Linked DNA regions of Homo sapiens: region 1 is linked to region 2. Evidence: fine-mapped expression QTL. Tissue or cell type: thyroid. Region 2 holds a variant in brackets; the other region holds the start of a gene. All regions are shown on one strand. Distances are between the middles of the regions.

The links. PIP is the estimated chance that this variant, and not a neighbour inherited with it, causes the effect.
Region 1: LRRN2 starts here. The variant in region 2 is fine-mapped to the expression of LRRN2 in thyroid (GTEx, PIP 0.91).

What each region holds. Positions count from the first base shown.
Region 1 is chr1:204,682,224-204,690,327 of GRCh38, reverse strand. It overlaps LRRN2 (leucine rich repeat neuronal 2), which reads left to right and starts at 4,590. Exons shown (of 2, transcript NM_201630.2): 1 at 4,590-5,008.
Region 2 is chr1:204,578,715-204,586,818 of GRCh38, reverse strand. It overlaps LRRN2-AS1 (LRRN2 antisense RNA 1), which reads right to left. Exons shown (of 13, transcript XR_007066814.1): 3 at 6,410-8,104; 4 at 5,662-5,739; 5 at 1,236-1,389. Among named protein-coding and RNA genes, the nearest start is that of LRRN2-AS1, 19 kb to the right of the region's middle. RefSeq lists an enhancer at 8,043-8,104. The variant C/T (reference allele first, on the strand shown) is at 3,589.

The DNA.
Region 1 (8,104 bases), 100 kb before region 2:
GAAAAAGAAATACAGGGCCGGGTGTGGTGGCTCATACCTGTAATTCCAGCACTTTGGGAGGCTGAGGCGGGTGGATCACTTGAGGTCAGGAGTTCGAGACCAGCCTGGCCTACATAGTGAAACCCCGTTTCTACTAAAAATGCAAAAATTAGCTGGCCGTGGTGGCACGCGCCTGTAGTCCCAGCTATTCGAGAGGCTGAGGCAGGAAAATCGCTTGAAACTGGGAGGTGGAGGTTGTAGTGAACCAAGATCTTGCCACTGTACTCCAGCATGGGTGGCAGAGCGAGACTCCATCTTAAAAAAAAAACAGAGTAGAGGTGTATCATTTATGGTTGATTAAATATGGTGTCTGTGGTGTTTGTGCTTATGCCTATAAAAAGTTGGGCACCGGGACATTGGTGAGGAATGTAATTTTTATGATCACATTGTTTCTGGGCAAAAACAGGTTCAACCTACATCATTTTTACCTGCAGTGCCTTTTCCAGGAATATAACCCAAGATAAATTTGAAGACTCCCTGCAGTTCCACACAGCTCTGCCATCTGCAACGTGTGTCTCTCTGCCTTTGCGGTTTTCTGTGTTCCAAGGGTGTCTGTGGATCCTGGGAGCTCCCTGAGGGCAGGGGTCAGGGAAGATCCCAGTTCTGTGGGGCCGTCTTAAGAAAAAACCCGCAAAATTCCAAATACAAAATTAGGTACAACAGTGATATTTACTTACGGCCAGCAAGAAGATAACAATTTACATGAGCCTTGGACATTCAGGGTCCCTTTCTCCTGACATTTCTTCATTCCATTTACCAGAAATCCTTACATAAAAATGCTTCCTGTTCGTAAACTGGCTTCCCCTCTTCACCTAGGACACTCTACAGTTCCCAGCTTTCATAGCCCACCCTCTCCCCACCATCCTGCAAGTCGAGAAGCCCTAAAACTTGAGCTTCATTCCCTTCACCTCTGCCTCTGCCTCTGCCTTCACTTGTTCTCTAATAGCCCAGAGAACAAGGCTCTGCACATGGGGAGCCCGGGCAGGGGACGGTCAGAGAGCAATGGGCACCCCCAGGCCAGTCTGTCTCACAGTGAGGTCATCCAACCACCTGAATCAGAATCCCCTGGATGGTTTATCTGAAATGCAGACTCTGAGAACTACAGAATCTGACTCTGGGGTAGGACCTCAGCACCTGCATTGGCCCACACTCTCCAGGTGATTCCAAGGTCCACTGCTCTAGTGCCTTACTCTCTGCCTAGTTGGGTCACTGGTGGGGGACAACAGTCCTCATTGACTCCCCAGACCCCACCCCATATCTCCCAAGGAGGCTGAGCAGAGGCTGCACACAACACACAGTGTCGTGTGTGTGGAGGGTCCACTGAGGGACCCTCAGTGACCCATGCCACATCCCAGGCCTCCCTTCTCTGATTCGGCTCATGTGCCAGGCACCAGTAGGAGCCATCCTCTCCTCACAGCCCCCACCACACAAACAGCATCCCCACCAGTTCCATATCCTGACCCCTATATGAGAGAGCCACCTGGAATTGAGCTAAGGATCATTTCTAGCAGCATGTAATCCCTGCATCCCTCTCCCAAGACACTCTGATGTCACGGAGTTCCAGGCTTCCTGGTGGGAAATAATGCATGGCCAAGCCCAGAAATTAAATTTGGAGGGTGAAAGGTCAATAACAGGGCCATTAAATCCTCTGGGTAATTACCTAAGAGCTTCCAAAGGACTGTGAATTGGGGCAGCTTTTCCCAGGAAAGTATGAGACTCAGAATGGCAGCAATGGGAGCAGGGTTGGGAGAAAAATGTCAACCACATACCATGCACCAGCCACTGTGCTCATGCCAGCCATATAGTCCCTGTAACATCTCACAGCAACCTATAAGTATGAATCCATTCCATTATTGCTATCTTCATCCTAAAGAAGTGCTAGGGAGACTTGGCTTGGTGTTTGGACTCTGTCATTTGAGGACCCTGGATTCCCGTCTTAGCTCTGTTACATACTGGTTAGGTAAACACTGAACCTTGTTTTTCTCCTATCACTAGAGTCCTAGTATTGGTCAAATTTTTGATGAGATGATGCATAAATGTGCTAGCACCTTGCCTTGCATGTAGTAGGTGCTCAATAAATGTTAACTGCTATTACTTGAATTAATATCGTTACTCAGGAAAGAATCAGAGCTGGGGAAGTTCAATACTTTGCCTGAAGCAAGACAGAGTAAATGGACAAGTAGAGTTCCAAATCCAAATCTTTCCAGCTCTAAAAGCTACACTCTTTCTCCAATCTCATTGGGTTCTAAGACATTTGGAGTCAGCTCAAGATAAGCCTTCCCCTATTTTCTTCTCACAGCTGATGAAATTCCCTTATGCCTCATCTAGTACATCTCACAGGCTTTGCCACTCAGGATCAACCACTTAGTGAACGTTACTTGCATTTATCCCATTTATTATTTCAATAATCAGTTATTGGACATCTACTATAAAGGACTGGTCTTATCTTATTAAGGTGTAAGACAGTCATAGGCTCCAGAAGCTTACCCTCTGGTTAGGAGATAAGACACTTGAGTATGCATAGTTATTGGGAAGCTGGGGTGCTGACATGAGTGCTCTCTCCGGTCGTGCAGTTGGTAAAGGACTCCTAAAATGTCCTCCTTTTCACCATCATCCTGTCTACATTGACATTGGCCCTTAGACTGGAAAGGTGGCTCCAGTGACTCGACAAGGGACTCAAATGCTCAGGCTAAAAGCTTGGAGTCAAGTTTTGACCCCTTTCAATCAGTCAGTCTTACAGTTCTGCCAAGTCTTCTTTACAAAGGCCCATGCATTTACTCTATTCTCACTGCTCCCCTCCTCCTAGATTCCTGCAACAGCTACCTCAATAGTCTCCCATCCTCCTGCCTCTTTCATCCCAAATCACCTGAGGATGGGTCCACAGATAAACTGCTGAGCCTGGCAATTCGGGCCCTTCATCAGCTGCTCCCACCCTGTATACTCAATGTGGCATTGTCGCACTGTGAAAATGAGGTCTCACATTCTGCCTACAGATTTTGGGCTACTGCCTTAAACGATCTGGGCCTCCATCCCCCGGTCTGTTAAAAGGGGATATTAGTCAACTCAGAGTCTAAGATGACAGAGATGAGAAAAGGCTGGCATCTAATAGTAGCTCTATAATTTTCCTCCCTTGCCCCCTACCCTCCAGACAACCCATTCTACTCTGCTTGTCTCCACTTTCCTGCCTTTGCTGGTCCCCATATTCTCTTCCAGTTCAAATCCTATCCCTCCAACTAGGCTCAGTTGGAGACTCAGCTCCTCCGTTAAACCTTTTGTGAATAATGCTAGTCCATTAAGGTGGTTTCTTTTTGTATTTCTATGGCACTTCCATCGTCTTGAAATATTAAAATTGGTTTCATATAGTTCCAACCTGTCACTCTGAGCTCCTTGAGGCCATTATGCTCCGTAGCAGGGGTGGAGAGTGGGAACATGGGGGTGGTTTAGTGGGAACTTAATATGTGCTCATTCAATATATGAAGGTGAGAATCCCCTCTGTGCATACAGAACTCAGACCTTCAAGCCAACTTCACAAAAGCCACCAGGCATGGCAGTCACCACTGGCTGTACCCTTGGAAAAGACAGGGCCAGAAGCTCAAGCACTGGATGACGGCAGGCAGCCCAGGGAAGCCACTCCTCACAGGACTCCACACCTTGGCCTCCACCTCATCCATTCCCCTGTTGTTGGTTCTGCAGGCTCTGGTCCAGACCCATCAGTAGGGTGTGGCCTGCCATGGAGCCGAGTTTGTGATGTCTGTTCTGAGTGGTCCAGGCTGAAGTCCCCACCAAGGCATGGGTGTTGGGCATTGGGCCTTTGCCCTCCTCTAGTGGCAGTCACCCAGCTTTTCTAAGCCACCAGGCAGCAGCCTAGCACCCACCTTTGGCACCTTCTTACTTTCCTCCCCCAGTCTTCATGATGTCCAGCTGGCAGAGTGGGGAACCCTGAAGCCAAACCCCTAACTGGGCCTGCCAGTTCCTGACTGAAATTGACCTCCTTCATTGAGAGCCAGGACGGAATCTTCCAGAATGCTAGAGCTGCACGGCTCAGGATGCAATGCTGGAAAAGCATGACAACTAAAGGGGTCTTCCACTCCATTCTTTAGGGTGAGAGGTGCCTGGGCCCAGTGACAAATTCTCACCCACCCCACTACATTCCTTAGTCCACTGTTAACTTCGGGAGGGTAGCACCATGCAAAGCAAAAATGTGATCTTAGGTGCATGCTGTGACTGTGAGCTGCACCTGTCCTCACAAAGCTGCTGAATTCCCCATTCGTCTCCTGGCCTTTGCAAGAGGGTCCGAGGCAGTATGAGAGAAGCCAACCCTTCTCTTCCCGGACCCAAGGGCTGTGCCCCTTCTCTCAGCCAAGCCTTGTGTCTCTAGGCACAAGGACAGCTCAAGCGTTAGCGTCTGGCCCCACCCAACTCCTTCCTCCCGGGTGTGTGTGCGTTAGGTAGAGGGGGCCTCTGGCCACTCAGGAGTTAAAATGGCAGCGGGACTGGAGGGGGTTGGCGTGGCATGCAGACTGGGAGGAGGCGACCGGAGTGGGCTGGGGAGGTTGGGAGAGCGGCGGAGAAGCGAGTGAGGAGGGCGAGCGCGAAGCCGGGAAGAGGGGCGCGCGTGGAGGGGGTGCCGGGCGCCGCGAGGGCCTGCTCCGGGCACCTGCGAACGCGCGGCGCTCTCAAGGAGCGCCTGGCTCTCGCCCGCCAGCCTCCGGCCGCGACGCGCCCAGGGCGCGGAGAGGGGGTGGGGACGGATTGGGATTCTGCCATCGCCCTCACCGGCTGGGCCCTGGAGCCGCTCCCAGGATAACTCCACGTTGGGGAGGGCGCCCGCCGAGCCTCCCCGGCCTGTGCAGACGGCGCGCGCGGCGGGAGGGCGCGGACCAGCGTCCCCAGCCCGGCCCCGGGCGGAAGGCGAGCGGAGCGCGGCCGCGCGGGCAGCAGACGGCAGACGGTGCCCGGCGCCCACGGGGTGAGTGTGCAGCTTCGGGGCTGACCTGGGCAGCGCCGCCGCCGCCGGGGAATCGTGGACACCGAGGTCGCTGGCGTGGCCGAGGCGTACGCGGCGGGAGCGGCCGGAGCAGCCGCCTCAGGGCTCCTGGCTCCTGCCCCGGCACCGCAGCTCCGCCTGACCCGGGTGGGGGCCAGAGGAGGGCCGGCCGCTGCCTTCCGCCGAGACGCCTGCGGGGGAGCCGGAGACTTGGGAGAGGGAGGCGGCCGAGGGGCAGAGGGACGGAGGGCTGGAGAATGCCCAGAAGCGGCCAGGGAGAGGGCGCCTGGGCCTTCGCCTGGAGAGGCCAGAACCTCCCCCAAACTGTTGCTGGGTAGAGTGGGGCCCTGGAGATGTGGAGGAGCCGAGAGGTGGCAGTGAGGTTAGGGAGGGCGTGACACGGGCGGACTGGCAGGCTGGAAGCGCTCCAGAGCCTGGGGACTTTCTCCTCCTTGGAGCTCGCGAGTCTGTGCGGAGGGACAAGGTGGCCTTGGGTCTGTCTGAAGTATCTGGAACCAGGAGCTAGGCTCCTCCCGGGCCGGCTGGCTGGGGTCCGACCGCAGCCTGGGATGGGACCTTTGGGGTGGGGGATGGGCCGGCCTGGGGCTCAGCCTGGGGACTCGGTCAGGGGGAAGCGGAAACGGAAGGGTGGCTCTGAGCCCACCGCAGGACCCAGGAGACAGGATGGGCTGGCCAGCCACAGGTGGGCCGTCTGTCCTGCTGGCAAAGGGTGGCGCAGGCTCTGGCTGCCCAGCCGGCGAGGAGCCGCGGGGTGAGGGAACTGAGCTCCATCTGGGGCCGAGCGGAGAAGCTAAAGAGGTGCAGGAGACCCGGAACCTGGGGAGGGGCCCCGGGGGTAGCACTGTGCTCCCTACCCTTCCTCCCCCACCCAAACGAACAGGAAGGAAAATGTCAGCTGGGCTTTGTGCTCTGTTCCTCAGGCTGCCGCAGCTCCCATCTGTTGGAGCCAACGCAGCTTCTAACTGGGCGACTGGCAGGGTTGGAGGGGGTGGGCTGGGCACAGCGCTCAGTTGCCAGAGATGGACTGACAGGCCCTCTGCTTGAGAACTCCAGGACCTAGGGTGGTGAGGAGAACAGCCTCCCTAGGTCAGGGCAGTAGAGGTGACTCCCTGCCAGTTTGGTCACTGTCATAGGGGAAGATGTAGGTCTCCCCATGCACCCAGGCCGATGGCAGGCTCCGTGCCCCCCTTTCCCGCCAGTCTAGGATGGGCTCTGGCCCAGCGTTTTGTCCCTGAATAAGAAGGCCAGGAGCTCCTCCCATTGCCCACTGCTTCTTAAAGATCCCTTCAAAAAAGAGCACTGGGCATGGAGGGTAGAGGTGGGCTCTGCACTGGGCACTGGAGCCCCCTTGCCTTTGGGCCCTGTGGCTACCAGAAAAAGCCACATGTGGGTGGCCTGACCCACTTTCCTGGCCAGGTGCTGTTGTGGCGAAACGATGGAAACAGAAGGGCAGAGCTAGGGATCTGAGCCTCCTAGGCCTTCTTCCTTCCCCTGTGCTGACTCAGGCTTCTCCTTCTTGCGGAGGGCTCTCTCTGGTCCTGGGATGGGTCCTCATTATTTGCAAAGCATGGAACTAAAGGCCTCAGTGCCTGGGAGATTGAGGTCTGCCCAGGGTCTGGCACCTAGGAACACCCCCAAATCCACACCCTCTCCCTAATGCAGTCTCCTCCCGGGGAAACACCGAGTGGCAGTAAGATCTCAGAGATCTGCTAATTCCATCCAGGCTAGTACAGCAGGTTCCCTCTCTAATTCAACACAGTTCTTCCTCACTTCCCATCCTATTTTCCCTGTGCCTCCCCTCTTCCTCCTCCCCCTCATCCTCCTCTCCTTCCTTCACTCTTCACTTTCCTCCTCTAACACTCTTCACTTCCCTTTTCCCCCTCACACTGCTCTTCCTCTTCTCTCACCCTCCTCATTCTTCCCCAGATATCTCCCTTTCTTCCCAGGCTCTGTCTCCACTTTGCCCTGCTTCTCCTGTAAACTGCAGCTTAAACCGTAAGCCAGGCGTGCACGCACTCCTGCTCATCCTGCCAGTGGGAGCACATGCACTGTTGACTTTGCTGCATCCCTTTTGCAGAGGAGCCTGGGCTGGTGGGCCTGGCAGCTGCATTTGCCTGGCCCTGGTGTCCCTTGAACCCTGTCATTTACTCACCTCCCCCTTCTACTCCCCACACCCTTATGTCGTTTATTTGAAAGGAAAAGGAAACTCCATGGCTTTTAAAAAAATGTATTCATTCAACAACTGTTTCTTGAGTGCCTACTGTGTGCCTCTCATGATTTTAGAAGCTGAAGATACAGCGGTAAACAAACCTCCATGTCTCAAGCTGACCACACTTGTATCTGGACTTGCCAGCTGATTAGCTCTGTTCCCACCAGGCTCGTTCAAAGACCCACAGCTTGAGGGGGCAGAGGTGAGGAACATGAACAATGCTAGTGAATTATCACACTGAGTGACCTCTAACATGCCAGGTACCGCTTAAGTCATCCTGTCCTTAGGATACTTTTCTGACCTGAAAGGATGGACCAGGTCACATCTCACCATTTATCTGGCAGCCCAGGGCAAGTAGAAGGCTGGTGCTTCAGACAGAGAAGGGGGAAGGAATCAAATTTATTATTGAATACCTATTATGCACCAGTCTATGTGAGGAACATTACAAAAGTTATTCTGTTCAGTCGTGCTGACAACCTTCTAATGTCTGCATTACCATCCCCTGTTTCCTAGCCAAGGAAATTGAGGCCTGGAGAGGAGAAACCACTTGCTCCGGGTCATATAGATCTCCATTTTGAAATCACTTGTATCTGCAGTTGATTTGGCCCTATGATATCTGTGACATCTGGTAACTTGTACACTTATACTAAGGCTTACATTCTAACCTAACTTTTCATGGGGCCTTATCTCCCAGTTAGACTATTAATATGTATAAGGATTTGCTGAACGGTTGTGTGAATAAGCTTTCTTAAGTGATCAAGGAAGGCTTCCTGAAGGAACTGGGACCCTGAATGAGGAGGCAGGGAGGGCAATGACTTTTCCTGTGTCATCCTACACAGGTATGTGAC
Region 2 (8,104 bases):
ACTTACCCAAATGAGTGGAAAACTTATGTCCACAAAAAAACCCACACACAGATGTTTATAGCAGCTTTGTTCCTAGTTGCCAAAACTTGGAAGCAACCAAGGTGTCCTTCAGGAGGTGGAAGGATAAATAAACTGTGGTACATCCAGACAATGGAATATTATTCAGCGCTAAAAGGAAATGAGCAGCCAGGTGCTGTGGCATTCGCTTGTAATCCCAGCTACTTGGCTGGTTGAGGCAGGAGGATGGCTTGAGCCCAGAAGTTCAAGATCAGCCTGGGCAACATAGTGAGCAAGACCCCATCTCAAAAAAAAAAACAAAAAACAAAAAAAAAAAAAAAAGAGAGAGAGACAAGAGAGAGCCAAAAAAGAAATAGAAAAGAGCTGCCAGGCATGGTGGCTCATTCCCGTAATCCTAGCACTTTGAGAGGCCGAAGCGGGTGGATCACCTGAGGTCAGGAGTTCGAGACCAGCCTGGCCAACCTGGTGAAACCCCGTCTCTACTAAAAATACAAAAATTAGCTGGGCGTGGTGGCGGGTGCCTATAATCCCAGCTACTCGGGAGGCTGAGGCAGGAGAATCACTTGAAACTTGGAGGCAGAGGTTGCAGTGAGCCGAGATCACACCACTGCACTCCAGCCTAGGCAACAGAGCAAGACTCTGTCTCAAACAATAAATAAATAAAATAAAAATAAAGAAAGACTGGTTAAACCATGAGCACAGAGAGACTGCCCAGCACACCAGGAAGAGACAGAAAAACAGCAAGCCAGGTCTCTGCAAGGGTTCCACATATGGCCTGAATGTATAATTTGGAAAAACTGCCACCCCTACCTACCCCATGCATCCCAGCCACCCCCCCCGCCCTCCCTCTGAACCCCCAAGTTTGCACCTTCTTACCTGTCCCCAACAAATCGCAGCCAGCCCGGGCTCCCCATGTTGGGAAAGGAAACCTCGGTCAGAGACTCCACGGTCCACATTTTTAGGTGGGGGTGGGTTTGGCAGATTGGGAGTGGGGATGGAGAGAGGGGAGATGTTTGAGGGGGTAAGGGAAATAGGGAACCAGCTGGGAGGGAGGAGGAGCAGAAGAATAGGAAGGGAAAGAGGTAGAGGAGGGAAAGGAAAGGAAAGGAAAGAAGAGGGGCCTGGAGGAGGGAGAAGGAAAGACAAAGGCCTGCTGGGAACCAACCCAGTAGGAATTACACTCATTTTTTTTCAAATTTCTGGAAGCTAGCATTTACCTAGGTGGGAAAGGGAGCTTCTTCGCAAATATCCGACACATGTATGAGTGTACGTTGCAGGTATGAATGTGAATGGCAACGGGACATAGCGCTGGCTGTGGCTGTGGCTGTGGCTGCGGGTGCAGATGGAGGGGATGCGGGTGCCGTACACATCCTGATAAGGAAAAGAGAAATGGGGAGAGGCCTCAAAATAAGCAAACCACTCTTCGACAGCCCTAACAAATCTGTTTTTGTTTCCTGTGTGTCTTCCCTGTCCTCATCCATGTGTACGTGTGACCTTTACCTCTTTAACACACCAGAGTTGAGGGTGGCAAAGCCATGCCACATCCAGCAGAGTCCCAGACCACAGTCCGCAGATGCCTTCTGAAGTCACCTCCTCCTAGCAAGCCCCTCCCCAACTAATGCCCCACACCTGCCCCACCCCTCCCCACTTCCGCCAGGCTCTGGGCCTGGTCTTGCGTCTGCTTTGCATTTCCCGTGAGTGCTCCACTGCTCCTCTCAGGCTCTAGACATCACCCCTCCCCAGGACTGCAGTGTCTCTGCCTTTTCTGAATCAAGGCCCCCACCCCGCCTTCCTGGGCCCGAGGTGGCTGGAAGGTTTGCACAGAGCTAGCGGTTCTGAGGTGCTGGGAATGCACAGGGTCAGTGCCTCCTCGGTGCACAACATAAGTACCTTTCTATGTCATGTGTAGTCTTTGTGGCATAAGGTTACTGACCGTGTTATAGGCCACCCACAAGATGTCCTCTCTCCCTAACCATTGCCCTAGGGTTGAAAACATTGGATGACTACAAAAAAAAAAAAAAAAAGAGTTTTTCCCTTTGAAAAATGTTCCCTGTGAGCCTGAGAGGTGAGGAGGAAGGCATTTCTTCAGCTCCTTGAAGCGGGTAGGTCCAAAAGCTGCCTGCTCTGCAGAGAGCCCGGGAGAATGGGTGTTTCCTGGTGTCCTGCCTTACCTGACATCACTCCAGTAGCCCCTGGGGAGCATCTGAGAGGAACCCAATCCCAGGAGCACTATCACTTGGTAGGATTACTACCATTTAATTTGCCACATTGCTTTTTAATATGCTTTTTGTGCCATCTCCTCTGGTAAATCATAAGTGTCCTAAGGGCTGGTTACATTCTATTCATCTCTCAGTGCCTGGCACCTGGCCCAGTGCCTGCCACATTGTGATATAAACAAGCAGAGCAACCACTGAGTGAGCACCTACCCTGTGCCAGGCACAAGCACTTGACAGGCATAAATGACGTATAAATAGATGCCACTATTATGCCCACTTCACAGATGCTGAGATAGAAGCCCAGAGAGGTGAATTAACATGGCCATGGTCACACAGGGAATAAAAACCCAACTCACGTTTAGGCTTCTCAGTTTCTAGGGGAAACTTCCCTGAAATATTCTCAGGCAGCAGAAATCTGGAGCCAGCTCCAGGTCTGAGAGAGATGGCGCAGAAGCAGCACTGCCCCAGGCCCTGCCTCTGTTGTGCAATAAGTGGCGCCAAGGATTTAGAATTTCCCCAGAACTGAAATAATGATCATAAGCATCTTTATTACAAGATGTGCACTGCTTTTGCAATCTGCTTTTGTTTTTTTTGTTTCTTGTTTTTTTTTTGTTGTTGTTGTTATTTGTTTGTTTTGAGACAGGGTCTCTCTCTGTCACCCAGCCTGGAGTGCAGTGGTGTAATCTCAGCTCACCGCAACCTCTGCCTCCTGGGCTCAAGTGATCCTCCCACCCCAGACTCCCGAGTAGCTGGGACTGCCGGCGTGTGCCACCATCCTCGGCTGATTTTTGTACTTTTTGTAGACACAGGGTTTTGCCATGTTGCCCAGGCTCGTCTCAAGCTCCTGGGCTCAAGTAATCCACCCGCCTTGGCCTCCCAAAGTGTTGGGATTATAGGCGTGAGCCACTGCACTCGGCCTGCAATCTGCTTTTGAAAGCACTTTTCTATCAAATGTCTTTTTAGATGCTATGAGGAAGCCAAGGCAGGTATCATTTCATTTCTGATGAAGAAACTGAGACTCAGAGAAATGACCGTCCAAGACCACACGGCGAGGTGAAGGCAGGAATGGCATCTGTGTGCTGGAAAGACTTTCAGAAGAGGATGCTAGGCCTGGCGTGGTGGCTCACACCTGTAATTCCAGCACTTTGGGAGGATCACGAGGTCAAGAGATGGAGACCATCCTGGCCAGCATGGTGAAACCCCATCTCTACTAAAAATACAAAAATTAGCCAGGCGTGGTTGCGTGTGCCTGTAGTCCCAGCTACTTGGGAGGCTGAGGCAGGAGAATCGCTTGAACCCAGGAGGCGGAGGTTTCAGTGAGCCGAGACTGCACCACTGCACTCCAGCTTGACAA[C/T]AAAGCAAGACTGTCTCAAAAAAAAAAAAAAGAAGAGAGAGAAAAAGAGGATGCTCTTCCTCTAATACAAGTATGGGTAACAGCCCTGCCTTTCTGCCCATTTACCAACAGCTCCAGGTGCCCACAGGGGACAGTCTCTGTCCTCAGGGCTAGGTCTCAGGGCCATGCTGACTGCACACCGACCTGCTCCCTTCTTGAAGGCAGAGGCTGGATTTTGAGCACTCCAGTTAGTGCAGGGACAGCACGGGACCCCTGTACCTCAGTGGCTGCACACTCCAAGGCCGAGTTTATGAAGGAGGACCAGCAGTCATCTACTTCCCCTGTCAAACACCATTACAGACTTGCAAACGCCAGTCTCTAAAGTTGGCTCTCTAGGCTGGATCTGTTCAAGTAAGCTGCATCAGCCAGTCAGTCACAGAGGAATTGGCCCCTCCACCCCCAAAAGACCCCTAAACCAAAGCCTGGGTGGCAGAGCAGTTGCCACCATCAAGCCAAGCTTGGACATCTAGGCTGAACTATGAAGGGTACACCGTTGAGATAGACAGTCCCTGGCCTTGTAGCCAAAGTGTCCAGTGTTCTGTTGTGTGGGCATCTAGGGGAGTCCTAAGGGATCAGCTGCCCAGCAGCCTTTTTCTAGAAATACAGGCACATCCACATGGATACAACAAGATCTCCAGGAGCCACGTGTCCTTCCTGTCCCCCGACAGCCACACTGATGGGACCAGCTGTGCATAGCCCACCTAAGCTGCGCATCTCAGAGTCCTTCCCTGAGCATTTGGAACCAAGAGACTCCAGGGTAGCCTGGCTTTCTCATAAACACAGGGACATAAACTTCAGAAATATTAGTGGTGGCCGTTCTCCTCCTTGGAGTCAAGAATAGAGAGAAAGCCAGTCTACAGCAAGAGAAAAGAATGAGGCAGCCCTGAAAAGAGGAGGGAGGCCCACTTGCATCCATGCCTTTGGGTTCCATGATACCTTAAGACTTTTCTCACAAAGTCCCCATTTTTGCTTAGAGTTGGTTTCTGTTACTTGTAACCAATAGAGTTAATACAGTATAACTCCATCATTCTCAACCAGGGGCGATTTTGTTCCCCAGGGGACATTTGGTGATGTCTGGAGATATTTTTGGTTATCATAACTGGGGGAAAGGGGGTGCTACTGACATCTAGTAGGTGGTCAGGGATGCTGATAAACATCCTACAATGCACGGGGCAGCCCCTCACACCAGGAACCATCTAGTCCAAAATGTCAAGTTGACAAGCACCATGCTTGTCAAAGACAGGAGCGATCATCATGAAAAAATAGGCTTTGTGTCTCACTTCTCCATTTGGCAAAGACTCTTTCATTTTAAACAATATTCTGGTGGTGAGAATTCTCATACCTTGATAGCAGGAGGACAGACAATGAGTGCAACCTCTATGAAGAATCATTTAACAAGACATTTACCTGGGGCCTTAACATGTTCACTGTTAAATCAGCAATTTACTTTGTAGAATTTATTCTTGGTAGAAAATCTTAATTCAGATATACACAAAGATTTATGCAAAAGGATGTTCAGTGTAGCTTTATTTATAATGGTGAAAAATGGAAACAACTTAAATATCAACCACTGGGTATTGGTTACATAAATTATGATACATTCATAGCACAGAATAATATATGTAGCACTTAAAATTATGTTTATGAAGATTATTTAGTAACACAGGGAAATGCTCATTATGTTAACTGAAAAGCCAGAATATAAAATTTTTGAAATATGCATAAGCACAGAAAAAAAGGCTGCAGGGAAATATATCAAAATATTAACTGTGGCTATCTCTAGGGACTAGGATCACAGCTATTTTTTTGTTTTCCTATTTTTAAAAAATATTTTCCAATTTTTCTGCAATTAACATGTATTATAATTTGGAATTTAATACTAGAAAGGAATCGTGATATCAGAATTTAGGATAGTCTAGATTATTCATTCATCAAAAAATAAATAAATAAATATATATATATATATATATATATATATTAAGAGCCTACCATGTGCTAGACGGACATTGTGAATAGGCAGACAAGGCCACTGACCTCAAGGGGTTTCCAGTCCAGGAGAGGAAGCACTTCAGAGGTTCCAACTATTTGCAAATTCACTGTTATAGAAACCATCTGAAAAGGATTTGTTATTAACACTTAAATAGCTACCATTTGTTGAGAGCTTATTATGTCAGTACTAGATGCCTTACAATTTTGATCTCATTATCTCTGCATAACACCCCGAAAAAATATGGTTAAGTCTTGGTCACATGGCTGGTGGGCAGTGGCCAGGATTCAAACCATATCTATTTACCATCAGCACAAATTCCCAGTCTCCTCTGCTCCCTGCCTCAGTGACAGGGGTCATTTCAGGACCATAAGATATGGCAAACTGGAGCCACCAAGAAAGATTTTAAAGTCTAGAAAGCCAGATAGAAAAGGGTATGCAGGCCAGGTATGGTGGCTCACAACTGTAATCCCAGCACTTTGGGAGGCCAAGGTGAGAGGATTGCCTGAGTCCAGGAGTTCAAGACCAGCCTGGGCAACATAGTGAGACCTTGTCAACAAAAAAATTTTAAAAAGACAAAATTAGCCAGGTATCGTGGTGCACACCTGTGGTCCCAGCTACTCTGGAGGCTGAGGTGGGTGGATGGCTTCAACCTGGGAGGTTGAGGCTTCAGCGAGCCTTGATCTTGCCACTTGGGCTTCAGCCTGGGCAAGATCCTGTCTCAAAAAAAAAAAAAAAGAGAGAGAAAAGAAAGAAAAGAAAGAGGCATGAGTGGGAGGAATGTAGGCCACTGACCAGATATCCAGCAGGAGGCCAAGAGTGAAGTTGTTTGCAGTGTTAGGGAAGGTCGTGGGGCCAGGGCTGGGGCAGAAGGGTGGTCACTGTCACAGATGAGCTCTGAGCTGCCCATGAGAAGGAAGAAATAGAGAAAAAGCAAAACCATTTAAGAAGTGGAGATAGAAAGACGAGCGCTTTGATGTACATTGGAATGGCTGCAGCTGCGGCCAGAAAGGAGCACGTCCTCTCCCCAGAGGTGAGTCTATTAGAGAAGGTTCCACACAGTGAGAGGGGAGCACAGAGGGGAATGAGCTTGTGCTGCAAACCAAAGCTCAGGGGACTCCAAGAAAACACGGAAATCAGGAGACCTCATGGGTTGTTGTAAAGGGCTATTGAGATGGCCTCCTCCCAGAAGAAATCAACAGAAAGGGTCCTGCTTCTTGGTGACCCAGAAGCCCGGGATAGGCTGGGTGTGGAGAGAAAGGGAAGCTGCGGAAGTCAAACTGGGGACTATTAGGAGCTTGGATCACTGGATTAACTTTGCAAAGTGAATTAAGTAATGAAGCTGGATGCAGATGGTGGAGCAACCGGGGTAGTTTGTGACTGGGAGGGACTAGTTTCTGCACTTCCAACAGCTGGCTGAACAGGTTAAATGCTCCACTCAAAGCCCAGGTCATTACCGTTGGTGGTGACATCCTGGCCCCTTCAGTGACAGACACAGAGGATCACCGTGGAGAAACACCAGGGAAGCTGAAGCTGATTTCCACTCACAATCTCGTTGTGTGCTTTGGTTCAGACATTTTTTTTTTTTGGTTCAGAAACTTCCAGGGGAAAACACCAGGCTAGGAGTCCAGAGGCCCGAGTGCGAGTCCCGGGACTCCTGTAAGTCACAGGAGCGGACGCATGCCACTTACCCGTGTCCTCAGCTGGAAAGTGAGAATGACGGTGCCACCCTCTCCTTCTCGGGCCTCCCCTGCCCAGTTTTCTCGGTGCCTCAGTGCCCTCCTCCAGACAGAGGGGGTGAGGAAAGTGCTTGCTTCGCAGGGCAGTGATGAGGGTCCAAGGAGGCAGCGCACGGTAAACTCCCTCCGAGGAAGCCAGGCTCGCAGTCAGCACTCAGCATCGTTGTTGCTGCTGCTTCTGCTGTTGTTTTTAGGCTAACTGGAGATAATAGATGTGAAAGTGTTTTGAGAAATACAAAGCACTCTATGTTCCAATAAAAGGTGTGGTTTCCATTCTTCCCTCTTCCTGTTTCATTTCTCAAAACTCCCCTCTGCACTGCTGGACTGAGCTATTGAACATGTCCCATCTCCCACAGGCTCCCCTGCCTCCAGAGCCCCCATCCCCTCCCCTTCACCCCCTCCTTCCTGGCACACAAAGCCCAACCCTTCTTCCTCTCCCCTGGGAGCCTCCCCTGATCCAGGCTGGGCTGGAGCCTCCTCCTCTCGGTTTCACCAGCACCCGTTGACTGCTGGCTGCACATACTGCAAATTTTCTGTGCTTTCATTTTTGGTTTTGTTTTGTCTTTTTCAGTCTTTTTCCTGCACTCTCCCCACCCTGACATAAGTTTCTTGGGCACAGACAGGGTGTCTAATTTGTCATTGCATGCCCAGAATCTAGCAAAGTCCAGGCATATTATCGTAAGCCCAGCAAATGTACACGGATTTGAATGAATGAGGAAATAAGATCATGTATATGAAGTCACCTTTTATG